4 separate regions of the Homo sapiens genome follow, and regions 1, 2 and 3 are each reported to be linked to region 4. The links are microRNA targets in miRTarBase. Many come from high-throughput screens and were not tested one by one. Region 4 holds a microRNA gene; each other region holds the end of a gene's coding sequence.
Evidence for each region. The annotated mature microRNA hsa-miR-6830-5p reads CCAAGGAAGGAGGCUGGACAUC and lies in region 4 at 4,732-4,753, shown strand. An mRNA with a match to its seed (bases 2 to 7 or 8) in the 3' UTR can be bound and repressed. Matches are read on the target gene's strand: a 7mer-m8 pairs with bases 2 to 8, a 7mer-A1 pairs with bases 2 to 7 and ends in A, and an 8mer does both.

Region 1 (7,832 bases), not on the chromosome of region 4:
GGGTGTCCTTGGCTTGCTCCTGTCTTTTCTTTCCCAAGCTGCAGGTTACCTAACTGTGAAACGGGGATAACACCTCCTACGCTGTGTTCAAATCTTGGCTCTGCCATTTACTACTGGGCCCATGAGCAAGTTACTTTTCACTCTCCATTTATCTTTTTGAGAGAGTCTTGCTTTGTCGCCCAGGCTGGAGTGCGGTGGGGCAATCTCGGCTCACTGCAGCCTCTGCTTTCCAAGTAGCTGCGATTACAAGCACACATCACCATACTAAGCTAATTTTTTTTTCTTTTTTTGAGATGGAGTCTCGCTTCTTCGCCCAGGCTGGAGTATCTGGCACAATCTTGGCTCACTGCAACCTCCGCCTCCCGGGTTCAAGCGATTCTCCACCACGTGCCACCACGCCTGGCTAATTTTTGTATTTTTAGTAGAGACGGGTTCACCATGTTGGCCAGGATGGTCTCGATCGCTTCACCTCGTGATCTGCCTGCCTCAGCCTCCCAAAGGGCTGGGATAACAGGTGTGAGCCACTGTGTCCAACCTAATTTTTTGAGACGGAGTCTCACTGTCACCAGGCTGGAGCACAATGGCGTGATCTCGGCTCACTGCAACCTCCGCCTCCCAGGTTCAAGCGATTCTCCTGTCTCAGCCTCCCAAGTAGCTGGGAACACAGGCATGCGCCACCAAGCCCAGCTAATTTTTATGTTTTTAGTAAAGACGGGATTTCACCCTGTTGGCCAGGATGGTCTCGATCTCCTGACCTCGTGATCCACCCGCCTCGGCCTCCCAAAGTGCTGGGATTACAGGAGTGAGCCACCGCGCCCAGCCTAATTTTTTTATTTTTAGTAGAGACAGGGCTTCACCATGTTGCCCAGGTTGGTCTCGAACTTCTGGCCTCAAGTGATCTGCCTGCCTAGGCCTCCCAAAGTGCTGAGATTACAGGCGTAAGACACAATGACTGCAATTTTTTTTTTTTTTTTTAAGAACAGGGTCTTGTTTGCTCTGTCACTCAGGCTGGAGTGCAGTGGCACAATCATAGCTCACTGCAGCCTCAGACTCCTAGGCTCAGGCAATCCTCCCGCCTCAGACTCTCAAGTAGCTGGGATTATAGGTGCCTGCCACCAGGCCCAACTAATCAAAAAATATATTTTTTTAGAGACAGGGTCTCACTATGTTGCCCAGCCTGGTCTCAAACTCCTGGCCTAAAGCAATCCTCCCACCTCAGCTTCCCAAAGTGCTGGGGCTCTAGGCGTGAGCCATGGCGCTGGCAATTTATCCTTAGATTGGGAGTAACACCACCACATTAGTTCACCAGGCTCCACAGCAACACATCCCCTCTCCCCAGACCCCGTCTGTCCTCAGGGGTATAGAACAACCTCTGCTGCACTTGGGGAGGGAGTATTCTAGCCAAAACTAGAAAAGCCTGCCCCCTAGTTTGAACTACCTTCAAAGCTGGCGGCAGAAACCATCTGGTGAGTGGCGTCCCTCCCGCTGGGGACATAGTCCCTTTCAGTCCAGCCCAGGCTCTGGACTGTCTACTGCTCAGCGGTGGTGCCTCTTGCTCCGCCTGCCCACTGAAGCTGTGGCAGCAGCATGGGGCAGACCCAGAAGTCACACCACACCTCACTGAAGCAGCCACTGTGGAGGGCCCAGGCCATTGTGAAGGTGGAGAAGGAGGAGGAATGGGTGCAGACCTCAACTCTCCCTGCACTCAGCCGGCAGGGATGAAGGAATGGCCCCAAGCTCTCCAACTGTGGCCATTCACCCTTCAGCAAGGGGATGGCCATTCCAGGAAGTTTCTGCCTGGGATGAAAACACAGCCTTCAAGGAACAAATAACTTGAGGGGCAGAATTCTGTCACATGGGAAACTGGCCATGTGATTCGCCAGGCAAATTGCTCTCCCTTCCCAAGGGCTGTGCTGCCTTTCTTTGGGCCTCAAAGATAAGACAGCTGCACAAACCACCTGCGGGTGTGCCCCTGCCCACAGGGGAGAGGCCACAACATGCCACAGCTGGGACCCACGGAACAGGTATAACCCTGGCTCCTCTTTCCCCAGATGCTTGCTCTGCCAGGGCACGAACACTCCATGTGGATCAGGGTCTCCTGCTCCCCGTTCCAGCAGATGCAGACCACCAAGCAGAGTACAATGGGGCAGCCCCTCCACTGTCCACAGAAAGTACTGAGCTCCAGCTCCCCCGGGCCAGGGCTGGCAGGAGCCCTGCTTGGGGAACAACCTGCACAGCTCCATCTGTCACACTAGGGGGTCACAGCCTCCACCAGCTCATAACTCTCCTGCCCCAGCAGCCCTGACATGAGCTCCCCTTCCTTGGAGCCTTGTCTTCTGTGAATGGATGGAAGAGGGCAGGAATCTTAAGAGACAAAGAATATTTTGAGTAACCCAATGAAGTCAAAGAGGAAAGAAGCACTCTCGTCTATTCACCTCCCACACATGGGCACTGGAATTTACGTTTGGACACAGATTTCAAATGTCACAAGGCCTGGCTTGGGACTTTCTCTCCAAGATGCAAAGCAGGCGCCCTTCAGAACACCTTTGGCCTCTACTCAGAACTCCTGGGAAGTGGCACAAACACATACATTTGGTCTCTGTTCCCAGCTCTGGCTGCTTGCCCCGGACAGCCTGAGTTTTTTCTCCAGCATGGGGCTATCATAGCTATGCACCTCCTGATGTTCGGGCCCAATGTTGGGACAGGCTCAGGGTCCAGAGCTTCCCAGATCCACGCTGCCCATGGTGCCCCAGCATCAGGAAGCCATCTCAGCAGCTGACCAAAGTGTCTTTTATTTGTGACATACAAATACAACCAATGCAAGAAGAGATCACTTTTTCCCTTTGATTCCAGTGATAACAAGCTGCTAAAGAAAAAAAAAAATATATATATATATATATATATCAAGGAGTTTATCTTCCAAATTTCCTCTTAAAAAAAAATTAAAAAGAACCATTCACATGTCCTATACATACTTGACACCAACAAAAATAACCTGAAATAGGGTGGATATAACTAAAATTTTAAAAATCTTAAAAAAATCTTAACATGCTCCAAACAAACAAACAAAACACAAAAAGCCTGGTAAAAAAGGCCTGCTATGTTTCTCTTTTTTTTTTTTTTGAGATGGAGTCTCACTCTGTCGCCTAGGCTGGAGTGCAATGGCGTGATCTCAGCTCACCACAACCTCCACCTCCTGGGTTCAAGCGAGTCTCCTGCCTCAGCCTCCCGAGTAGCTGGGATTACAGGCCACAACCACGCCTGGCTGATTTTTGTATTTTTTAGTAGAGATGGGCTTTTGCCATGTTGACCAGGCTGGTCTTGAACTCCTGACCTCAGGTGACCCGCCTGCCTCAGCCTCCCAAAGTGCTGGGATTACAGGTGTAAGCCACCGCACTCAGCCATGCCTGCTGTTTCTCAAAACCAAGACCTGGGGGAAGTGGAGAAAGATGGATGTTTTGGAAATGAATGGGCTCAAGACCAACAAGAGTGATTGCAGGTCTCAGATAGTGCCTCTCCCACCCTAGTCCCGACCTCCTGAGGAACCCTTCAGGACATGGCCTGCAGAGACTAGGGTGAGCAGGGTATGGCACCAAGCACCCATTGACCAGTTGGTGCCACGTATCCAGTGACTGGAAAGAGACAACGTAGACTGAACTCACCTTACAAGGGATGAACACGGGGGGGTCCCTTTTGGTCCCCTTGAGTGAGAGGTATCAGGAATCCATGATCTAAGACAATAAATATTTAGCATCTGTGTCCTTTCAGAGACAGGGACCAGAGACAAATCTCTTCCTAAACATGCTCCTGTGGTTTCATGATTCTTAGGAGTCCACCAAACCCCTCCAGCAATGTCAACTCTGCCTGGGATGAAACCCACCAGGAGCCAGCAGGGTGAGGCAGAGGCAGAGGCAGACTTATTCCAGTGTAAAGCTGCAAGGCCCTCTCTAAGGAGTTCCCAGTCCCACTGCTGCCCATCAAGAGCAGCGCAAAGTGCTCAGCAGAGGGGCCAGGCTGGGTGAGGGAGGCCCTGTGTACACAGGCTCCTGCACAAGCAGGAATCCAGGTGAGAAGCAAGGACCACTCTGGGGAGATCTGCCAGGAGAGACTGCCAGAGTTGGGCAGAGGGTGGGATGTGAGCAGATGCTGAGGTCAGAGGGACCAACAGACCTCCACGAGAACAACTTCACGAAGGCTAGAACCTTTATGATACTCCCCACAGCAGAGCTCAGGGATATCCAAAGGGAGCTGTTAGGTGCTTTTTCCTTGATAAGGATTTGGCTTTTCTTCCCTGGAAGAGGAACAAGGCCTAGAGATCAGGATGAGCATTAGTTCTGAGCCTGCCTTTCTATCCTATGAGAGAAGAGGAAGGCTTTCTCCTTCCCCTGCTCCAGCCTGTTGCCACAGGGTGACACCAGAGAGAAAAGCAACTGTTGGCCACTGAGAGGCATTTCTGCTGCAGCCTGAGCTATGGCCCGGCTGGGCCACGGCAGTGGCACTAGTGCCTCACTGAGGCAGCGAGGGGCAAGCCTGAGGAGTGCAGGCAGAGGGGCCTGCTGCTGGCTGGGGGCTCTCTGAAGAGGGAGGGTGGCTGTGGGGAGGTGTGCCCTACCCTTAGAGAGCTATCAGCACCAAGATAGGAAAATCAATGGAGTTAACTACATGAGGAACGAGAAGTCCTTCTGGGGAAGATGAGGGGCTCCCTGATGTTATTCTCCCCTTGAGACTAAGAACAGAGGTATTTGGGGTAGAGGTGAGAGGCAGAGGAGAAAGAACGACGAGGGCTGGCAGACAAGAACAAGCAGAACCTCTGGCTTTCTTCTATGAATCAAAAGCTCAAGTCACTGCCATGAGACCAGGAGGTTAAGCTTAGAATGCAGCAACATCCAGGAGCCTAGAGAAGCAATCATCCCCATGGCGGGTCCCAAGAACACCTCATTGTTGGTCCTTTCAGGCTCTCTGACAGCGATGGAGAGGCAGTCTTCCTCCCAGAGTCAGCTGGTCCCAACATGAGCCCACTCCATGAATCCATAAAAACAGCTGGAAAGAGCTTTCTTCATTTCCCTGCATCTTGGCACAAAAGATCTTCCCAGTCTCCGTTAACAGCAATTCCAACTGCGCAAGCGTGAGTCTCTCTGAAGCCGCCCTCTACACCCAGATCTTACACCCAGTGTGTTCCTCTTTGGGGACCAGCAAACCCCAGACCCAGGACTCCAGAACTTTCATAAAGGTGGACATAAACATTCCATTTGTCCAAGTGTGTATGTGTCAGGGGAGGGGAGGTTGCCAGGAATCTAGGGGCTGCAGAGGTGCGAGAACCTCCACTGCAGGCCCCAGGAGCCAAATGAGGAGGCAGCCACTGTGGAGGATGAGCTTCACTGCCCGGCCCCACCTACTCTTCCCTCTCCCTTTCATTCCCTTCTAGCACTCTGGTCTCCTAGGAGAGGAGGAGCAGCTGATACCACTTCTCCCCAGGGTTCTGTGCTCTCAGGGCGCAGCCTGGCACGTGCAGGGCTGGGGAGGCCACAGCTCTGAGGACACCCGGTGAACAGTGAGACCAGGAAAGAGGAAAGGCCTTAGGAGAGAGCATTGTGACTTGAAAGTGGCTCTGAGAGTTCAGTGGCAGCAGCCACCACAGTGCCCACCCGCGTGGGAGTGATGGCTGTCCCCAAACTTGGTCCTCCGGCTCAGGATCTCATAGGAGCAATCCTCCCCACAGCAACCGGACATGCTGGGGGAAGAGTCATCAATTTCAAATCTGCAAGGCAGGCAGGAGAAAAGGGTTGGTGGCAGGCAGCTGAGTGCCTTCCTCCCTGGCCCGAGAACTCTTCTACCAGCCACACTGATGAGACCCTTAGGATGAGGGTGCAGGAGGTGGACAGTGGACCAAATCAGAGAGCACTGCCATACCATCTCCCTGAACCTGAACCCCCATGGACCACTGGACCATGAGCTCAGGCATCAGAATGAGTGAGGGCCAGGACCAGAAAAATGGCCCTGGGCAGGCCCACCTACCACCCAGAAGGGCCCACACCCAGCTCCTTACTGCAACGCTTCTCTGAAGAACTGGTAGGCACCATGATTGTGTTTAAATACTGTTAACATAACCTTCTTCATCTGTGTGCTGGAAGAAAGCAGAGCAAACGCCTTTTAGAAAGAGAAACATGGCCAGGCATGGTGGCATGCACCTGTAATCCCAGCACTTTGAGGGGCAAAGGTGGGAGGATCATTTGAGCCCAGGAGTTAGAGACCAGCCTGGAAAACATAGTGGGACCCCATTTCTACAAAACATTTAAAAATTTAAAAAAATCAGCCCAGTATAGTGGCATGTGCCTTTAGTCCCAGCTACTCCAGAGGCTGAGGCTAGAGGATCACTTGAGCCTGGGAGGTAGAGGCTGCAGTGAGATACGATCACACCACTGCACTCCAGCCTGGGTGACAGGGTGAGACCCTGTCTCAAAAAAGAAAAGACACAGAGACTAAGGTCATGCTTCCTTTCCTTTCTGCCTTTGTCTGTTACCTCCCTTTCACCCACACGAGTGTTCCTGAATTTGGCCTCTAGCCTCTGGAGGTCTTGGACCCCCACACAGCACTCACTGCTTCCCCCATCACAGGCTGATCAGACTGCACAGGCATCGGCCCTGACCAGACTGGCTTCTTCCAGAGCAAGGATGTTTCCCACTTCCTCTCTGTAGCACCATTACTTCGGTACAGAAGGTGGCAGAGATTAGAAACTCAAAAGATGCTCACTGGCCAGGTGTGGTGGCTCATGCCTGTAATCCCAGCACTTTGGGAGGCTGAGGTAGGTAGATCACCTGAGGTCAGGAGTTCGAGACCAGCCTTAACATGGAGAAACCCCGTCTCTACTAAAAATACAAAAATTAGCCAGGCATGGCAGTGCGCGCCTGTAATCCCAGCCACTTGGGAGGCTGAGCAGAAGAATTGCTTAAACCCGGTACGTGGAGGCTGCAGTGAGCCAAGATGGCACCATTGCACTCCAGCCCGGGCAACAAGAGTGAAACTCTGTCTCAAAAAAAAAAAAAAAAAAAAGATGTTCACTGCACTGAGCTAAACAAACAAAATCTGGAGTCATAATAAGGCAGGGAGCATCTTACTGAGAGGGTTCTAAGACACCTTTCTCCCAAAACATGCCTATGAGCCTCCTCCTCCAACAAGGCTCAAAGAATGGCAAGTGCCTCAGTGACAGCTCCTTCCAACTGAGTGCTATATGGGCCTCCTAAGAAGGGAGGCCTTACCTGTTGGCCATGAGCTGCAGGATCTGTATGAGGAACTTCCCCAGGCCTTTCCGCCGCACCTTGCTTTCCAACTGCACTTCATAGCTAGGTGAAGAAAGCAGAGAGGTGAGCGTGCAGGATGGGACATGAAGAGGCTGTAAGGTCTGGCAGAGGAGCTTGCAGTCCTTGGCAGCTCATAGACCTAGGTAGGTCCAGGGGCTTTGTCACCTGGCTGGAGTGCCTGGAACATCGCCAGGGTCTCTCTCCCCTACCTCCCCCAAGCCATGGCTCCTACCAGTACAGGACTTCATCCCCACACTCCACGTCAAACCGGAAGTGAGAAAAGGCAACAGGGACGGAGCTGTTTTCCCACGCGATGAGGTACCAGGCTCGGTCATCTGTCATTTCCTCCCGTTTCTCTCGGTCCTTCCAGCCCCACTCGCTCTGCTCATACCTGGGGAATTTGGGAGCAGTCAGACGGGAAAGCTGCGAGAGGAACTAGGCTCCCCTGGTTGGGACAAGCTTACATGGTTTGCATATTCGTTTTGGTCAGGTCGAAGGCCCAATCCACGGTGGCTGGCTCCAGTCCAGACACTC
Region 2 (3,000 bases), not on the chromosome of region 4:
CCTTCCAGGAGGGTGGCGCCATCGGGCCATCCAGCCCACACAGGTGCTCACTGACTGCTCCCCATCCCCTGCACCAGGCACTATGACATGCGGAGGAACGACGACATTATAAACTTCTTCAATGACTTCAGTGACCACCTGGCTGAGGAGGCCCTATGGGAACTGTCTCTGAAAATTAAACCCAGGAACATAACAAGGAGAAAAACAGACCGGGAAGAGAAGACCTAGGAGCAGACGCCGGGATCCAGGAGAATGCTCGAGGGGCGCAGAGGGCAGCTCCCAGACCGGAGAGGACCTTGGACCTGTTAGGCGCATGGCAGGAGTCCCGGCCTCGGAGCCATGAGGCTGGCCAGCCCTCAGCGGGGCCGGGCGGGAGCTGGAGCCTGCCAGCCGCTTCCTGCCTCCTTCCTCTGTGGGAGCAGACCCGTGGGCCTCAGGGCAGCCAGCAGGCAGGTCTTGTTGCCAATTTACAAACCGGTGGTTTTCTGGTTTGGTTTTGTTTTCTGCTTTTACTTCCATCTCTCCCCTCTTGACCTTCCACCCACTCCCCTCCAGGGAGAGAGCAGCAGAGACCTCATCAGCAGACCAAGGAAGTGGTGGGTGCTCCCCCTCCCTAAGCTCCAGGGTCCCTGAATCTTCTGAAATCTCAAATGAGTGGAGGCCTCCTGGGGTGGCCTGTCCTGCAGGGGCCCTGGAATGGGGGCAAGCAGCTGGGTGGGCAGAATGCAGAGTAGACTCGGGGGAGGATCCTTTCACTTTCCGCTTCCCCTTCTGATGCATGGAGGATGGTGTGAGCTTTTCAGCAGGCCCGGAAAGGTACGCAGGTGACGCCTTAGCAGCCCCGCAGCTGGTGCTCTGCCCCGCGGTACTGGCGCCATCAGGGCCTCCCTTGCCCGCCTGAGAGCAGCAGCAGTCTCTGTCATCCCGTCGCCCCTTACCCCCCACCCCAGGCCACTGGGCCCCTCCCACACCACCTGGGGAGCTGAGAAGAGGAGGCTGGAGTAAGGGAGGACTTGATCATCCAAGAAATACTTTTTATTGCTGGGAGTCTTCTGAACCTCACCAAACTGAGGCCAGAGCTGAGCTCCTGGGGGAGTTAATTCAGAGGGGAGAGGCCAGCACCTCCCTCCTCCATCGCTCGCTGTGTGCCTTAAACTCCATCTCATGTCCCTCCCCATCCCCTGGCTTTCCCTCCCTCCTTGCCCCATCCTGGGCCAGCCAGCAGGGCTCCTCCTCTGGCTCTTCAGACCTTTCAGCCAGTGCTGTCAGTGCCCCTGGGAGGGAAGGGCATCCCTGAGGCACCCGAATGGTCCCTCAGGGTGCAGGGAGGCAGAAGCCTGGCCACAGAGGAGCCTCCTAAGGCAGCAGCTGCAGCAAGCGCACCCTCTCCCCACTCTCCCCACGCCAGAGCGGCTTCCAGAGCAGATGCTGTTTCCATCCTCCTCGTCAAAACCATTCTCGCTGCTGAGCTTGACAATCTGGGCAAGGCTTGTGGGGCGCTTGACAAACAGAATCTGCCCTGTGCCGCCTGGTTCCGTGGCCTCCAGCATGAGCCTGCAGGCAGGGCGCTGCGGGAACCCAGTTGTGCTGCCCCAGCCCATGCCTCCGGGTCTGCTGTGCATGAATGAGTGCTCACTTGTCCCGGGTTTAGGACGTGGTCAAGTGAACAGCAGGGTCTAACTGTGCTTACTTAGCCCAGTTCAAACAGAACAAAGGAAAAATATAGAAAGCAACATCTGTTGATCATTTAGGTTTTTTTTTAAACCACCATGTCACTTTGAGTCCTTCATGGGTTTTTGAACAGCATTTATCAAGAAGAAAATGTGGGCTTTTTCCCCTCTCCCGTGTTTTGTTTGTCCTGTAGATAGAGGGAGGAAAGCCGTGCAGTGGCAGGCGGGACCCCCTCTGGTGGCGGGACCCCCTCTTGCGGTGGTCTTGCGGGGCCAGCCGGGACCTGTCACTTTATTATTTAAGGAGTGTGTGTGTAGAGTCGCTGGCTTATTAACAGTATTGTGTGTGGGTTGGGTTTTTAGTTTGTTCCTTCTTTTTGAAGTCCCTTCATTTCAATCCTTGACTCTCTCTCCCCTTCCCTTGCCCAGCTCTGTTGAATGCTGCTGTGCGCGTGTGAGGGCCGCTCTGCACACAGGGCCCTTGGGTTGTGTGAACTGAAATTCTCCCTGTATTTGTGAGACTCGCAGGAGTCCCCATCTGTAGCACAGGCAATGCCAGTGCCATGCTGCAGCCTCAGAAACCAGGCCTCTCACTCCAGCAGCAGGCAGAACCGTGTCTGTGGTCGGGTGCTGTCCACAGCTCTGTCTGCCTTGTTCTTGGGCTTGAGCTGGATAGAGGTGGGGTCTCTTCACCTTCCCTGAATTCAGAACAGACCCTGTGCCTGGCCCCAGTGTGCCCAGGCAATTCCCCAGGCCCTCACTGGGAGCCCTTGGTGTTCTGAGCAGCAGGGCCCAGGCAGCACATGAGCAGTGCCCAGGGGCTCCCTGCGTGAGGACGGCAAGGTGCGATGTATGTCTAACTTATTGATGGCAGGCAGCCCCCTGTGCCCCCTAAGCCTGGCCCTGGTTATTGCTGAGCTCTGTGCTCAGTGCTGCGGCCTGGCCGTGGCTCGTCTGTTCCTTTGGGGGGCCCGGGCGGGTTGTGGGAATCAGTCTTCACAGACAGACGTGAGCCAGGCGGAGGACTCGTTCCTTGCAGAGGTCAGTCCTCACCTGCAGGTGTCGGGGTGTGGGGGGGCAAGGAGGGGCAGGCACACACCATGTCTGACCTGAACCCGATTCTGGGGAGCATCTTCCCGCTCCGGCCCCACGACCTCCACAGGGTTACATTGTAATATATATGCCCCAGCTAACCTGTCTGATGGTGGCATCTTCCTGCAGACATTTCAAACATGTAACTTTTATATGAAAAAAAATAAACACAGATGAAAGCTGCCCAATGCCATGTCCGCGCCCAGCTGCATGTGTGCAACTACAGTGACAGCCCAGC
Region 3 (7,765 bases), not on the chromosome of region 4:
GATCTTTTCTTTACCTGAGTGTTGCCATGAAGCGTGTGGGGAATCTCAAGTCGATTTAAAAATTTTTACATTTCCGTCTCATGGCTTCCCACTTTGCCCCAGGGAAAGTTGGAGAGTACGGCTACCTGGGTCAACCCAACGCGGTGCGCACCAACTTCACTACCAAGCAGCTCACGGAACTGGAGAAGGAGTTCCACTTCAACAAGTACCTGACGCGCGCCCGCAGGGTGGAGATCGCTGCATCCCTGCAGCTCAACGAGACCCAAGTGAAGATCTGGTTCCAGAACCGCCGAATGAAGCAAAAGAAACGTGAGAAGGAGGGTCTCTTGCCCATCTCTCCGGCCACCCCGCCAGGAAACGACGAGAAGGCCGAGGAATCCTCAGAGAAGTCCAGCTCTTCGCCCTGCGTTCCTTCCCCGGGGTCTTCTACCTCAGACACTCTGACTACCTCCCACTGAGGCGGCTCCAGCCCCAGACAACAGCCCAGGCATCTCCTTGGGCTGGGACTTCTTACCCAAAGCACATGCTTAGCTTATCTTTCTTTCCATTTACAGTCTCTTTCTTCCTTTCTAATCCTATCTGGGGAGCTCCTGGCCAGGATAATATATTTGCAGATAATTCTGGACCAGAGACTTGGTGCGGGGTTAACACCTTCATCCAGATTGGGTGCCAGCATACATTTTCTGGTGGGCCTTAACATCCCTCCTGCTTTTAGGAGAATTCACAGAACCTACTGTTCCTTTCAGATGACCTTTTGGAAAATAGTTCCCTTTGCCAACAGAAACATGCCAGAAGGAATCTTCTCATCTTTTATCTAACTATATGTACAGCTCTCCCCTCCCTTGTCCTTGAAAGTAGGATATAGCGAAAGGCGAGTCCAGGAGCTCAGGAAGAAGAGATGCACTATATGTTTACACAATTAATTCATCCCTTAATTTAAGTCATTTTCATGTGTGTGAGTTTGCTGGTTGTAAATACTTTGTCCTAAGAGATTTATCTTTATACAGATTTTCTAGAAATGTTTAGGTTACTAAAACAGGGTGGGCAAACTCTCTAAACTGGTACAATTTTATAGGTGAAAGAAAAAATTCCCTCATTTAAACCCAATCAGATGCCTCAGAGGGTAGCCTTGATTTGTTCTTACAGTTAAGAAGCCCTGCAGAGCACAAACTTCAGAAACCCGGCTTCCTGTGCTAAGTCTTTCCCAATCTCTACCCCTTTCTTCTCGGGCCACCCTCTGTTTAAAATTTGTGCTGGGTTATTCAGAACCTAAAAGTATTATTCAAACCAATTTCTTCCTTCCACAGTTATCTTAGCTGGATATAATGTATTTTCAGCTCAATTGTTAATGTGATGGATGGCACAATGAATGTATATTTTGTGTTATTCGTGAATAGTCTTTTGCATGTCGCACAATGTTTGATGTCCCCAAAGTACCACACTGAGTTCTATCAGTTATCCTTTGTGAGCCTATGATATTCCCCATTTCCTGTACAATCATGAACAGCTCTGAGATCCTGGAGTGATATGATCCAGAGCAGAGTTTACGGGTCTTAGGATGTCTGTAATAAATAAATATACTCAAGTTTCAGGTATGCTTAAGCATCCGTGTATTTGGCTGGGCTACAATTTGTTAATTCCTATGAAGTTGGCACATTTCATGAGGGGAAAGGGAGAAGGGTGGTAAATATTTTCAAAGAGATGGGCCTTTTCTTGAATAAAAGTTAATAACAGCTCCTTTATTATAATCAAAGCTCATAATGGAAAAAAAGACTGATGAAGAAATTTATGAAGCAGATTTATTTTTGAAACAAACATGGATACTTCCTGGGTCAAGTGCTAACCTTTTCACCTCCAACTGGATGTTGACGTATATATAAACAGAACTCCCTTCAAAAGCCAAAACTGTCTTCAGTCAGTCTTTCCTCACATCAGTGAACCAAGAGCTAAGAGATTCACATTTAATTAGCTCCAGTATAAAGTTGTTGTGAGGATGGGGCCCTTATTCCACTCCTCTTCCTTCTTTTTGGATTGTCAGGCAGAGTTCTGATATATTCCACCCTTGAAATGGAGTGTTTTTAGTAAACCCTTGCATCCCTTCCCCCATTCTTCCTGTCAACATCCATCCCTTCCTGCGGCTCTTCACCCCTTCTTCCCCATCTCTGGGTTGCACATCTTATTCCCTTCAGACTCAGCTTTGATTTCATAGCCGTCATGGCTGTAAAGGATCCACAGTTCTAATTCCATGCCACATAACCCAGAAAAAAAAAGTCATTTTCTTCTCTGGGCTCCACAGGTACTTCCAGGTGAACTTGTGGAAGCTACCCTGAAGTCTTTCAATATCCAAGTTGTTTCTGACCAAGGTATGTATCTGCTCTCAAAAGAGGAAGCCAGCAAATGATAGAGTTCAAAGTGGCTCTCCTCCCAGGCCTCTTTATTGCTTTCCTTTACTTTCACACATTTTTGGAGGCATTTTATTTAGCCCAACAGTACAGCAGAAAATTTACAGCATTGAAAACAAACACAGACAGATGACTTCCTTCCTCCCCAAAGGGTGTTTTACAAAGGACGGGCTGGAGGAGAAAAACCCTACAAAAATTTGGAATTTGCAGGCCGTCTAGGGCACTTGTGAGAATTCCTGCACTTCCCTGTCAAAGAAGAGAAGGCTGAACTTTGCGGTGCAGTTGCTGCGGCCATATCAAGGGCACCGGGTGCCCTCCCCTCAGCTGCTGGGTTCTGAGGTTGCCTGTAAAAGACTCAAGTGGATGGAGAAGAACTTCAAAGACGGTCAACCCTTTCTTTCATTTCCTGCCTGGCCTTATACTGTATCTTTTGTTTATTAGTGTAGGGCCACACAGCAAAACAGATGGCTGGCTTCCAAATACTTTAATGTGTTAAAGTGTCATTTGCATGCCATTGACTCCATTTCAATATCTAAAAGCAGGGCGAGATCCACTGGAATCCCAGAGATTCCAGTCTTTAAGATGCTGGTTTTAATGTAGCAGCAAGAGAGAACAATAAATTATGGCTAACCATCTCTAGCTTTCTCTAGGTCATGGAATAAATCAGTTAACAAGCAATGCATTTAGGAAACATTAATACACCTTTCAACAAGGAAAACATTTGTATCTTTTTAGCTGTCTCAATCGATTAAATCAAAGGCGCTTAACACATCCTATTTCAAGGTCTCTCTGCTTTGGTCTCTAAGGAGCACAGTTAGCTACTTGAAAAATGACAGCAATGGTAACTGAAACAACACAGAGTGGGAAAACTGAAAATAACATTTTATTGATACATTTACAAAGGAAACAAGGGTCTCAGTTAGGCACCTGGGATAACTGCGATACAAAATTCTAGTTTTCCAATGTTTTTTTCCTCACTTCCTCTACATTTATCCACAGTACTCCCCAAATACAGAGTGTTCCCAAACTAGGCTGAGTTGAGGTCTTGCTTTGGCTCTGAAGTCTGCTCTGGGTTTCACCTTTTAAAGTTTACTTTTGGAGGCTATTCAAATGCGGTGGTGTTTTCCTCTGGGGCAATCAGATTCAAACCGATCAATATTTACTCAGTCTGAAAGGGTTGTTGAAAAGGCTGCTAACAACAAACTGCTTAGCTGCTCACCCCTGTTTAATCTCAGGTTCACCGAAAGTTCAAGAAGAGATGAATGCAGTGATGGGTCACTTTAGAATGAGTCCCAGCAGTTTATCTGAGCTCTCAACTAAAGGCAACAATTATAGTTCCATCCCTCTTTGGAAAAGGGGCAACTTTCCTATTATTCTTTTGCTAAACAATGTTTACTAGAAACTTAAAACACTTTCCTCTCCCCTCTTGGTTCTTTTCTTTTCTTCCTTTTTTTCTTTTTTGTTTTTTGTTTTTTGGAAGCTTCCAGCTGCCCTTCTCCTGCCCCCTCCTCTAGTTTTCTGCCAATCCATTCAGTTTCATTTGACTTTAAATAAATCACATCAAATATTGTTAAAATGTTAAATTAGTCTGACAGAAGATATCTGATTTATTTCAGATGCCACAAGCTATGAAATGAAGCTCTTTGGGCCATTAGAGTTTATCTTTGTGAAAGTACAGGGCAAGATTGAATTGAAATCCATTTGTGTTTGAGTAATATTGACAATCAGAGCCCCAATATCCATCTGAGATGGCTGTTGAGTGGGAAAGGGGGGAGGGAGAATTGGCTTGCGCAGAAGCAAATACCTCAGGTGGAAAGTCAACTTTTAAATTTTACGCCTTCTTAATGCATGAAGTATTGAGAGATGAAAAAGGAAGACACAAGGAAGCCAGTGGGGAATGGTGAGTAGAAGATGCTAGACACTGAAGCTAATTGCTACAGCTCTTCAGAGGTCAAAGTTCATGTAATCACTGCATAAATGCATACTAAATAGGGATTTATTAAGCTTTCCTGATGGCTGAGCACGTCTGTGAAAAATGGTCACTGCTGTTTGTGTTTCCTCCTTAAGAATAATCATTCTTAAAGCAGAAGCTCTAGGCATTTCAGGCTTTAATTTATTTTGAGAGACAGGCAACTCCTGTGCTTAAAAATACTGAAATTAGTGCATGAACAACATCTTTCTTTATATTGGATGGGGCTGTAAAAGAAACGCTATGGCTTTTTCAGTACATACAAGAACACCCTTTAGTTAGCATGCCACTATTGGGATAAGCTAGTCACTGGTCAACTTTGGTGACCCTCTGCCTTAGATAAGTCCCCTTTGTGCCTGCATTTGTGAGAACACACAAAAATTCTGCCTTAGGACTCCTTGTGCCTAAATGACCAGAATTGAATGGGACCCACATCCCTAATCTCTCACTCTATGGATCAGAAAAAGGCACCCAGAGGTGGATTGGTTTGACTGAGAGCACAGTCAGTATCCATACTCTTACTTCCTAAATAAAAAAACAGGGCAGCTTAGAACCTGAGTCCAGTGCACTTTTAAATTCTAAAGTCCTGATTCAATTTTGTCCCTCCCTGATTTATTCCATGTAATTTGTTTCAGACTAGATATGATTTATTTTTCCATTTCTGCTTTACTGGCCACCCACTCAGTCAAGTCCTTGACTTTGAGGCCATTAGGAATACCGAATCTTTGAAACAACCTCTGAGTTGAATGCTTCTGCCATCTTGTTTGAATAATAAAATGTGCTACTTACCTTTAAATACATATGTTCTTAAAATATAAAAATAAAAATCTGGAGGGCAAGTAAAATTCAACACACACACATATATTTCTGTTTTGTTTTTAAACTTGGATGGGAAAGAATAAATGAAAGAGGAGTTGCCTACACACAAATTCGACCTCCATTAAATTGTCAAGAAGTATCATCTAGAAGGGGCTTCAAGATGCAAGGGACATTCCAGGAGGGGTTCTAACTCTGAACCTTTTAAAAATGTGTTTGCTTTTTCTGGCTAGTTTGTGGCGCAGCATACCTTCTAAATTGTTCTGACTCACATATCTTAATTTTTTCCAAGACTCACTCATGTACCTAACACACACACACACACCCAAGCCCAAACTATTAACATAAAGTCTCCTTGCAATACAACTTTCCACATTCTCCTCCATCTCATCCCCATGGGGTCCTACTGATCTCAGCAGAACCTGATGCCCAAAGGGACATCAATGGTTGTCAGTGTTTGAAGAGGTGAGCTGGAATCCTCAGCGTTTTAGTGCCTTATTTTTAATAGCACCAGCCATCAAATACAGCTAGCTGACCTTTGATAGCAGAACTACAAACAAAATATCAATTAAACAAGTATGTTCAGTAGGCGCTAGCCTCTAAACACCTTTTTTTTTTTTCCTTAGGCAACTCTAAACCCTCATCATATCCTGCAAAACATCCTTAAATGACTGCATTTTGAGTTTACTGGAAAAAATGAAAAGACCAATGTCTCTTTTTGCAACATGTTCAAACACAACTAAAACACGTGTCTCTATTTTTAATCAGCCCATTACATTTTACTCTTGTATTAAAAACCTGTTGGTAAAACGTCTAATCACAAGGTTAATCTATAGAAATCAGATTTTTTATATTTTCATTTAGGCTTGTGTGGTTAATCGGTTGGGAAAAAATACACAAATGCTTGCAACAGAAAATAAAAGAAAAATTATTGAGCGACTTTTCTTTTCAAACTGGGACACGTTTTAGCCGCGTTGGACAATTTTACGATTTACGACCCACTTCGTTCTAAGTCGCCACAGAACCGTAACAAGAATGCAGAAAGCCACGATTTAAAATGGTAACCCCAACCCCCGAAATATCAGCAACACGGTTCTGGCAAAGTATGCACGGGAATTTTCCCATTCTGAGGAACAGATGGGGTCTTTCCTTTAGGATGCGCAGGGGTCAGCTGTCCAAGGCTTGGGAAGAGGTCGGCTCGGGCGATCGAGTCGCTCGGGCAGCGGCGGCCGCGGGAACTCCGGCTCTGCTGGGGCTGCGGGGAGCGGGCGGGGGGCACCAGCGCCTGCCCCCGGCCGGCTAGGCTGCGGCAACTGCGAGAGGAGATGCCGCAGGACCTTCGCGACCCTGCGGGGTTGTAGAGGAGCCCCGACGCCGAGGTCAGGACGGCTTTCCTTCCTTGGCTTCCCAGCCTTCACCCTCTGAGTTCTTGACCCAACGTCGCCGTTCCGTTTCTCCTGCTTCCTGGGCCCCAGGCAGAGCACGAAGGGAGCAGCATCCGGGCTCTTCCCTGGCCTGCAGGCTTCGCGCCTCTGGATGGACCTGCGCCGGTCCGGGGCGGGAAAGGAGCAGCATCCGGGCTCTTCCCTGGTTCGCGCTCAGAGCCCATCTTGGGCCTGAGCGTTTCCCGGCCCGCGTCGGTGGGTGGTTTCGGAGGGAAGGGAAAGTGAGTCCGGACAGGTCCCCGAGGCTGCGAAGAGCTCCGCTTTGTCTCGGGGGACAATGAGGCCTCGCGTTTCTTTCTGCCAGCGTCGCCCAGCTTCGAGGGCTCCTGAGGCGCGGTCTGAGCTGCCCCGGGCCGCCACCTGACTCTCCCGAAGAGGGCTTCGGGACCCAACACTTCCTCAGAGAAGGAAACCCAGGTCAGAGGCCTCGCCCCTCGTCTGTCTCTAAGATTTGAAAGGGGAAAGGAGATTTGATTCCCTGTCCGCCCCATGCCCCAGATATCTTCAGAATGTACTTAATTAAGTAACATATTCATTCTCCTCCTAGTTCAATTGAGTTGTTTTCAACAGTAGCGGTGCGGGTTTCTGAATATTGGATGTTCAGGGACGCATCCTTGCCTTTCCTCTCAGATCAGATGCCTTCTGCTACTCCAATTGCTGAGTCGAATGCCTTAACACCTTGCCTCGTCTCACTTCTTTCTAGAAAGTTTCCAAGTACTGCTTCCTACTCTTTCGGCTTCCCCCTCCTAACAATAGCACTTTTTTTTTTCTTTTGAGACGGAGTCTAGGTCTGTCGCCCAGGCTGGAGTGCAGTGGCGCGTTCTCGGCTCACTGCAACCTCTGCCTCCCGGGTTCTAGCGATTCTCCTGCCTCAGCCTCCCGAGTAGCTGGGATTACATGCACCTGCCACCACGCCTGGCTAATTTTTGTATTTTTAGTAGAGACGGGGTTCCACCATATTGGCCAGGCTGGTCTCAAACTCCTGACCTCAAGTGATCCGCCTGCCTTGGCCTCCCAAAGTGCTGGGATTACAGGCATGAGCCACTGCACCCAGCCTCCCGCCCCCCGCCAGCTTTTTTTTTAAACTTGCATAAGTGAACAAGGACTTGGGATAATTATCGACATTAGAAATT
Region 4 (7,832 bases):
GAGGCTAGAGAGGGCAGTAGGGCCTGGTCACACACTCAAAAGGACCCTTTGGGCTAAAGAGTTTGAACTTTATCTTGACGGCAGTAGAGAGCCAAAGGAGGGCTTTGATAAACCATGCTGGCTACTTTGTAGAGCAGAGGTGGGAGGAAGGCCAGATGACATGTGGAGAGGCCAGTGTAGTGGGGGCCAGGATGCCTGTAGGGGAAGTTAGGGGTGGCTCAGATCAGGGTGATGACTGAGGCTAAGGAGAGTAGGGTACCCCCCATACTTGCCTAGGGTGCCGTGGCAGCAGCTTATAGGCCTGAATGGACATCCATGTGCTTTGGTGGCAGGGTCTCCTGGAGCCTCTGGATCCTCTTAGGCTGAACACACAGGTCCTTTCAGCCCTGTTATCCTAGAGTTGGAGGCAGCGGGGAGCCGTGTCCAGTTAGGTTTTCCCCCTTCACAGAAGGCAGGCAGGTTCTTGTTCAGTGCCAAGCAAGACCAGTTTGTTCTCAGCAAGCTCATGTTCTGTCTCTAGGCTGTTAAATACATTGTTAAAACTCAGGCTGTTGCATTTGGGTTGCAGCTGGGAGCTTGGCAGAGATTCTGCCTGATGAGGTAAGGAGAGAAGCTAAGGACGCTGCTGGTTTGCAGCTGGAAACATCTTTTCATGGCCATTTGGCCAGATTGTAAATGTCTTTTCCAAAGTTCAGGTTTGGTGGGACCTCTGGTTGTATGTCTTGGAATTGCCCTGTGTTTAGAAACAGTGCCAGTCGCCTGATGGGTGAATCACTGTTGCTGGGATGTTGGCAGGTTTTGCAGGACTTTCCTGTGGGGGTCCAAACACTAGGGCTGGCAGGGCCCGTTTGGAGTCTGTTTGAGAAGGGCCTGCTTTGTTTTCTTTACATTTTAAGCATATGATAAAATAATTTTAAAAATTGCTATAGAATTTCTTGTAGAAAGATTAGAGAAACAAGCATAAAAATAAAAAGAAATTATTTCACCAAGATATAGCCAGATGTATGACTCTTTTCTTGCATCTCTCTATATACACATATACATTAATTTTTCCTTACAAAAATGGAATTATAGAGTGCATATTATTGGGGCCCACTTTTCTCACTTAACAGTATGCTTAGATCTCTTCATGTTGATATATAGTATTCATTTTTAATATACTCCATAAAAACTCATTGTATAGAAGAAATGTAAAATCTTCTATTGTTGTAGTTTCCTAATTTGAACAAGTCTGTGGTGAAGTATTTTTTGTTGTGTTCCTGGTATGGGACAGACATTGTTCTAAACTCTGGGGATGCAGCACAGATAAAACTCAGTATTGGTTTTCTGCTCAAGATGTCACTTTGTTTTTCATAAAAGTGGGTTTGACATTGTTCACCTCCAGACTTATTCCAGTTGGATTCTGAGGGTTTCTGGGAGGGCTTTTAGCAGCACTGGACACTTTGTAGGGGCACTCAGCAGGTACACATACTTTCACCTACTCTGTCTTAAGCAAGCTGTGGGCATAGTTATGAGATGGGTTGGAGGTTGGCCTTTCCCACATTGTGGGGCACAGTCCCTCTCGGATGCTGCCTCCTCCCAATCTGACTCTAATTAGAGGACTTTTTGTACAGAGCCTTTTGAGTTAAGGGGCCCAGGCTTGGGAGAAATGGGGTAGGGCTCCAGAGTACCCCTGCCAGAGATGTCAGTGTTGATGTGGTAGTCTGGGAGCTGCTGCTTGGAGGTGCCCAGCTCTCCAGGCTAGCAGAGTTAGTTATCCCCTTCTCCCACCAGAGCAAGACTTTGCAGGCTCTTGGTAGGTAAGTCATCTGTAATTACCTGTGATTCTTTGAGGCTCTGCCCAAACCCCATCTGTGATTCTTTGAGGCTCTGCCCAAACCCTATCTGTGATTCTTTGAGGCTCTGCCTCCAGGCTGAGATTCAAGAATGGGCTCAGTCTAAGCCAGATCGCACATTCCAGAGAAATCACAGCTGGTATTCATGTAATGAAGAAACCTGGCTTTCCCTGAGTGTTGTGAGGTATGAACCGTAGATGATAGGAGCAGAATGATTTGAAAGGAATGGACAGACTTCCTCCCTGGAATTTATCTGGCCTCTAAAAAGGTATGCAACTGCAACTGGAGACACACCTGGGTAGAGATGCTGGGTTCCCCACTTCCAACCATGTCTGGTTTGGAACCTGCCTGGGCCCTGTTCTCCCACCACCCCAGCTCTGAGGAGCAGTCAGCTGGTCCCTTTCTGATCACAGATACATCCTCCCAGCTCTATGTTTTCACTGTCCCCTCCCTACATACATACAGAAGGTGCTGAGCCTGAGCCAGTCAAGCCTTTTGAGGAACAAGAAACAGACACCCAATCCCTTAGGTATAAGGGGCTTGTGTAAGCAAGAGAGAAGCCTTCTGAAATCCTGGGATAGAGAAGACAGTATAGTAAGGCCTTGGAGCAGACCTGTGGCTAGAACCAGGAGGGCCTGGACTCTGCCTCAGGGCAAGCCCAGGCTTACTCACTTTCTCTTGATGACTTGCTCTCTTCTGCTGCTCTAACTCCCTAATGGACCCCTTAGCACAATACGCCCTACCCTGCAGCAGGTTCCAGGTTGGAAGATAATTGTCCTGTGTGTCTTGGGACCCCCACACCTAGACTATGACAGGAAGACTGTCAGCTCTGCAGACATTTGGCATAGGCATGAACACATGGCGCCATTCACTTATGCTTTCCTTCTGATAGAGGATCCATTTGCAGATGGGAGTTGTGGTTGGCCTTCTCTGAGCCTAACCTGGAATCTCAATGGATTAGGATTTCTTCTGAAAGAGTAAGATGAGGAATGGTGGGTGTGCTGTGTGTCTAATCAAGTATGGCGGGCAAAAAACTGATGAACTGGCATTATCTTAGACTTAGAATTCTGTCAGATAAGGCTTATGTTTTTTTGGGAAAGCATTTGTATTTCCTTTGTTTTGCTTGCTTTGTCTTAGTGAATTTCCATTTGAGCACTCCAGTGGGGTGCTCAAAAGCAGGGCAGGAAGAAGACCGGCAGAGCTGGGGTACAGATGGGTGCTAATCCTCCAGCACAGTCTAGGCTGCATGGCTGAGCTGGGAGACGGTATCGGAGGCTTCTGTTGTGGACTGAGGTTTACTGCCAGTGGGGTTTGTCTCAGGTTGTGCCTATTTCTGGGCTGATGAGAAGACAGTAGCTGGCCCCTTTCCCATGTCAGCAGCCCAGCCTGAGGTTTTGGCCATGTGTGCCATATTCATTTTTGTATCCTGAGTGCCTAGATCAGTGCCTGGCATCTGCAGGTCTTCAGTAAATATTTGTGAATGAATGGTGACGGGCCAGTGAGAACAGTGTCTGCCAAGGAGCCTTACTACAGGAAGAACACTGTCTACCTAGGAGACTGTCTCCTCTGACTGCTCTTTCTCTGGCAGGTGCAGACTGACAAGGGTTAGTTTTATTCCTCTTCTGGCTGGCCATCTGTTGTACACCTTAGTTTGGGTGTTGGTACTCTGGAGGATATTGTGTCAAATTATCTTTCTGTTATTGTCTCTCATGTACTGTTGCCTCCTTGTGGGCAGGGACTGGTTCCCCAAAACCTGGCACTGTCCTGGCATATGTGTTGGAAGGTAAGATAGAAACAAACAGCAGTCTGTGAAATAAGAAGGAGTGGGCCAGAATCTTGGACTGACAGACCATTGGAACCCGAGCTGACTGTACCCCACTGCGATTCCGCCTTCTCATGGTACAGGTGGTTGCTGGGAGTTGAGAGGATGGGCTCTCTCCGCAGGGCACGTGACTTCCCAGAGCAGGGACCAGAATTGAGCACACATCACTGGCTGCACGCTCTTTGTTCTTTCTGCTGTTTGTCCTTTTTAGCTTCTGTGTGCTAGGCCAGGATTTTGATATGTTTGATTATCTGCATATGTGTGTACATGCCTATGTGTCTCCTCACCTAAATTAGTCTTTTTCACTTTGTTGATCCAGTGATTGTCATTGAATGCCTTTCAGACACTTCCCTCTGTGACCATGAAACTCTGGGTGTCTGCATTGCTGATGGCCTGGTTTGGTGTCCTGAGCTGTGTGCAGGCCGAATTCTTCACCTCTATTGGTACGTGCCAACAGGACTGTCGTCTCCCTGACACCTTGGCTCACATGCCACGGATGTCTCTGGCTGCAGCCTGTTCTCATTTAGAGTGGGATAGCCTTAACTACTGGTTTTGGCCAGTTCTGAGGAGAGTGGAACTGGCAGAGTTGCTGTTTTCCCCTATAAGATCCCAATGATCTGGATGTTCAGGGAGCCAGATGTCTGAATTGGGTCTTTCTTCCTGGGAAGTGCAGGCTGCACTTGGGCTCTCTGGTCTTTTTGACCACCTTGCCCATGGACCAGAGAGTGGTTCTGAGCAGCAAATCCTTTGTATCCTGAGGATCAAGCTTTTCCTATCCTTCCGACCTAAAGTTCAGAGCTTTTTATCCTGTGGTGAGCCCCCAGGATATCCATGCCCCAGTGTCATGACCAGCTATGTAACAGTCGGAGAATGAGATTTAGGGCTGCTTCTTGAGTGACATCCAGTGCACTTATCTCAAACATCCCCTTGGTGCCTCTGCCTCTTTCTTCCTGAAGTTGCGAGATAGAGCCCCATGAGTGCCTAGGCCCCCTTTAACTCCAAGTCCCCATAATCCTCAGAGAGCTGACATGTTCTTATCCCAGGGGACTTGCTTCTGTGCTGGTATTCTGTGCCCCAAGGAAGGAGGCTGGACATCCCTCATCTGTTTCTCACTGGTGTCTTTCTTCTCTCCCTTGCAGGGCACATGACTGACCTGATTTATGCAGAGAAAGAGCTGGTGCAGTCTCTGAAAGAGTACATCCTTGTGGAGGAAGCCAAGCTTTCCAAGATTAAGAGGTGTCCTAAGTCCCCAACCATCCTTAGTTGGCCTTCCTTCCCTTCTGCCCCTCAAGGAACAAGGAAGCCATCCAGGGTGCCTATAAGAGGAAACCTTTGAGAGGGTGATGTGGGGCTGGCCTGGTTACTTCATGCCAGTGCTTGAGAGGAGCTAAGTACATGGGCTAAGGAGTCACTGTTTATTTTCTATTTAAGACCTTTTCCCTTACATTGGGGGTCCCAGCTGTTATCTAGATTAAGGGGCTAGAAGTATCTGTGGGGAGTTACTGTATTCATTTTTCATTGCCTCTTGATGAAAAGGGCCCCAGAACCTGGCACCAGGGAATTCTCACTAGGAAAATTGTCACAGGTCAAGACCTATGTGGGTGGACGCATTAGTCTTCCTTTTCCTCTGGTTCCACAGCTGGGCCAACAAAATGGAAGCCTTGACTAGCAAGTCAGCTGCTGATGCTGAGGGCTACCTGGCTCACCCTGTGAATGCCTACAAACTGGTGAAGCGGCTAAACACAGACTGGCCTGCGCTGGAGGACCTTGTCCTGCAGGACTCAGCTGCAGGTGAGGGACGGTGAGCAGGTGCTTGAGTGAGCCCATATGTTTGTGTGCTCATGCCTGGGTTGTTGTGTCTGAGCCTGTCTTGGGTCTGGGTGTTGGTGGGCAAGTACATTGTGGAAACAGGACCCTGCTGGTCTCATGGCTCTCTCCCTTCTCTGTGGGGACCTGGAAGTTGGCTGGCCTTGGTTTTTAACATGTAATGATGTTCAGTTCTTTTTTTAGCGTCTTTTTTTTAGTGTCTGTCTTTTCTTATTTTTTGCTAATGACATTTTTCCAATTATACTTTAGTGATACATGTTTATAGAAAAGTCGGAAAACACAAAAACAAGAGAATTATAATTCTTAATCCAGTTGCCCAGTGGTGAGCATTATTAAAATTGTAGTTTTTCTACCTATGCATATACATTTAAAAAATGGAACTATACATACATACCAGGGCATGCAAACTCAGTTGCTTGGAGGGACAATGAATTTACAAGTGTCAAGTGGGCTGGATGGTGGGGCCAGGGCAAGTTGGGGAGCATAGGTCTGATCTAAATTCATTCCTATTCATATGTTTTACAAACAAAGCATATCTGTTGGTAGATTTGTGACAGAAGAAAAAATTCTGTGAATTTCTCAGCTTCTTTATATGCCATTCAATGTTCTTCTGCAACATGATTTTAATGGCTGGATGGTGATTACCTGTCAGATGGTGATAATCTGTCATACTGATAATACTGTCAAATGGGTCAAGTCATTGGATATGGGATTTTTTCTGAATTATCAGCACCTTTTTACATATTTCTTGGTGTATACTTCTGATTACTTTTTTAGGGTAAGTTCCTAGAAGTGATATTACCGATGAGAGTGTGAACTTTTTAAAAGCTTTAAACTATACTTGGTGCTTTTATTGTGATAATACTTTTTATGCCCTAATACTTTTCTGTCAATAAGAAGAGATGGTACGGTGGGCCTGGAGGTGGGCTCTCCTAACTCCTAGCCCTGGGTTTAGTCCCCTGGACTCACTGACTTTTTTTTTTTTTTTTTTTTTTTTTGAGACTGAGTCTCACTCTGTCACCAGGCTGGAGTGTAGTGGCGGGATCTCGGCTCACTGCAACCTCTGCCTCCGGGTTCAAGCAATTCTTCTGCCTCAGCCTCCTGACTAGCTGGGACTATAGGCACATGCCACCATGCCCAGCTAATTTTTTTTTGGTATTTTTAGTAGAGACAGGGTTTCACCATGTTGGCTAGGATGTTCTTGATCTCTTGACCTCGTGATCCACCCATCTCCACCTCCCAAAGTGCTGGGATTACAGGTGTGAGCCACCATGCCCGCTGCCTTTTTTTTTTTTTTTTTTTTTTTTTTTAAAGGGACAGGGTCTCACTATATTAGCCTAGACTGGAGTGCAGTGGCTATTCACAGGTGCGATTGTAGCACACTGCAACCTTGGACTCCTGGCCTCACGTGATCCTCCTGCCTCAGCCTCCTGAGTAGCTGGGACTATAGGCACAGTGCCATTGTACCCAGCTCTTCACTGCCTCTTTTCCCTGAGCTGTGAGTGCTGATTAACTTCAGACTAGCTGTCTCTCTGGCTGAGACATTTTAGCCCATGTGGCCAGACTGGGTTGGGCCTGGGGGCAGGGTGGCCTCTGGAGAGGGATTGGTGAGCTCAGCCAGGCTGGAGCTGTGCCCAGTGAGCTCACTGCCTCCAGAAACCACGGCTGCCTTTCCCAGACTCCCGCCTCTCCGCCTGGGCCTGCAGCTCGGGACAGGCTGTTCTGCCTGCACGGCAGGAGACTAAGCCTACCCAGATGACCTCCTCTCTCCAATCTTGTTCTCCACACCCTACACTCCCACCATCATCTGGTTCCTTTGGAAAACCTTATGATTACCTGGAAGGAGATAGGGCAGGCCCAGAGAATAATTGGTTGTTTTCATCTCTGACTTTGAGTTCTTGCCCCTGAAACGAGCAGGGCATGCTGACAGTGTGGCTTTTCCTGGCAGCATGTTCCCCTACTCCCACCCCACCAGATTCTAAACTCTTTAGAGTCCCTGACCATGTAGCTATGAAGACAAGGAAGGCAGGGTTACAGCTTCTTGGTCCCTGTCCCCAGTTATGGCTGAAGTGGATGTTTAGGTCTGAAGTCATAGGTGGCAGTGGATACAGCTACTCTTGGGAAGAGGTTGGGGAAGGAATGGCCTTGTTGTTCCCCTCTCACTTCTCAGCTTAGAGGCAGAATTGAAGGCCCTAAGTCAGCCTGGGAAGGCTTGGCTCCCACCTGGGATTGTAGGAGGTACACATCTTACTTTACAGCTAGGGCTTGGAGTCCCAGAAAAGCCTCCTTGGAGTACTTCTGTGGTCAAAAGCTCTCCCACGCTTCAGGCTGTGGTCTTGAGCACCATA

Region 1: the mRNA of NAA40 is a reported target of hsa-miR-6830-5p. Seed matches in the 3' UTR shown: 7mer-A1 at 2,904-2,910.
Region 2: miRTarBase lists RAPGEF1 as a target of hsa-miR-6830-5p. Seed matches in the 3' UTR shown: 7mer-A1 at 2,068-2,074 and 7mer-m8 at 2,700-2,706.
Region 3: the mRNA of HOXA1 is a reported target of hsa-miR-6830-5p. Seed matches in the 3' UTR shown: 7mer-A1 at 846-852.

Annotation. Positions count from the first base shown.
Region 1 is chr11:63,952,264-63,960,095 of GRCh38, reverse strand. NAA40 (N-alpha-acetyltransferase 40, NatD catalytic subunit) reads right to left here. Exons shown (of 8, transcript NM_024771.4): 4 at 7,763-7,832; 5 at 7,531-7,689; 6 at 7,257-7,340; 7 at 6,047-6,124; 8 at 2,777-5,758. The coding sequence ends at 5,617. Among named protein-coding and RNA genes, the nearest start is that of NAA40, 17 kb to the right of the region's middle.
Region 2 is chr9:131,576,725-131,579,724 of GRCh38, reverse strand. It overlaps RAPGEF1 (Rap guanine nucleotide exchange factor 1), which reads left to right. Exons shown (of 27, transcript NM_001377935.1): 27 at 78-2,950. The coding sequence ends at 228. Among named protein-coding and RNA genes, the nearest start is that of PRRT1B, 33 kb to the right of the region's middle. RefSeq lists enhancers at 297-376, 577-706, 737-786.
Region 3 is chr7:27,087,133-27,094,897 of GRCh38, reverse strand. HOXA1 (homeobox A1) reads left to right here. Exons shown (of 2, transcript NM_005522.5): 2 at 103-1,905. The coding sequence ends at 458. Among named protein-coding and RNA genes, the nearest start is that of HOXA1, 5.0 kb to the left of the region's middle. RefSeq lists enhancers at 1-310, 311-811, 2,400-3,310.
Region 4 is chr5:132,214,813-132,222,644 of GRCh38, reverse strand. It overlaps MIR6830 (microRNA 6830), which reads left to right and starts at 4,727; the gene lies at 4,727-4,796. P4HA2 (prolyl 4-hydroxylase subunit alpha 2) reads left to right here. Exons shown (of 15, transcript NM_001017974.2): 2 at 4,001-4,100; 3 at 4,797-4,893; 4 at 5,297-5,448. The coding sequence starts at 4,019.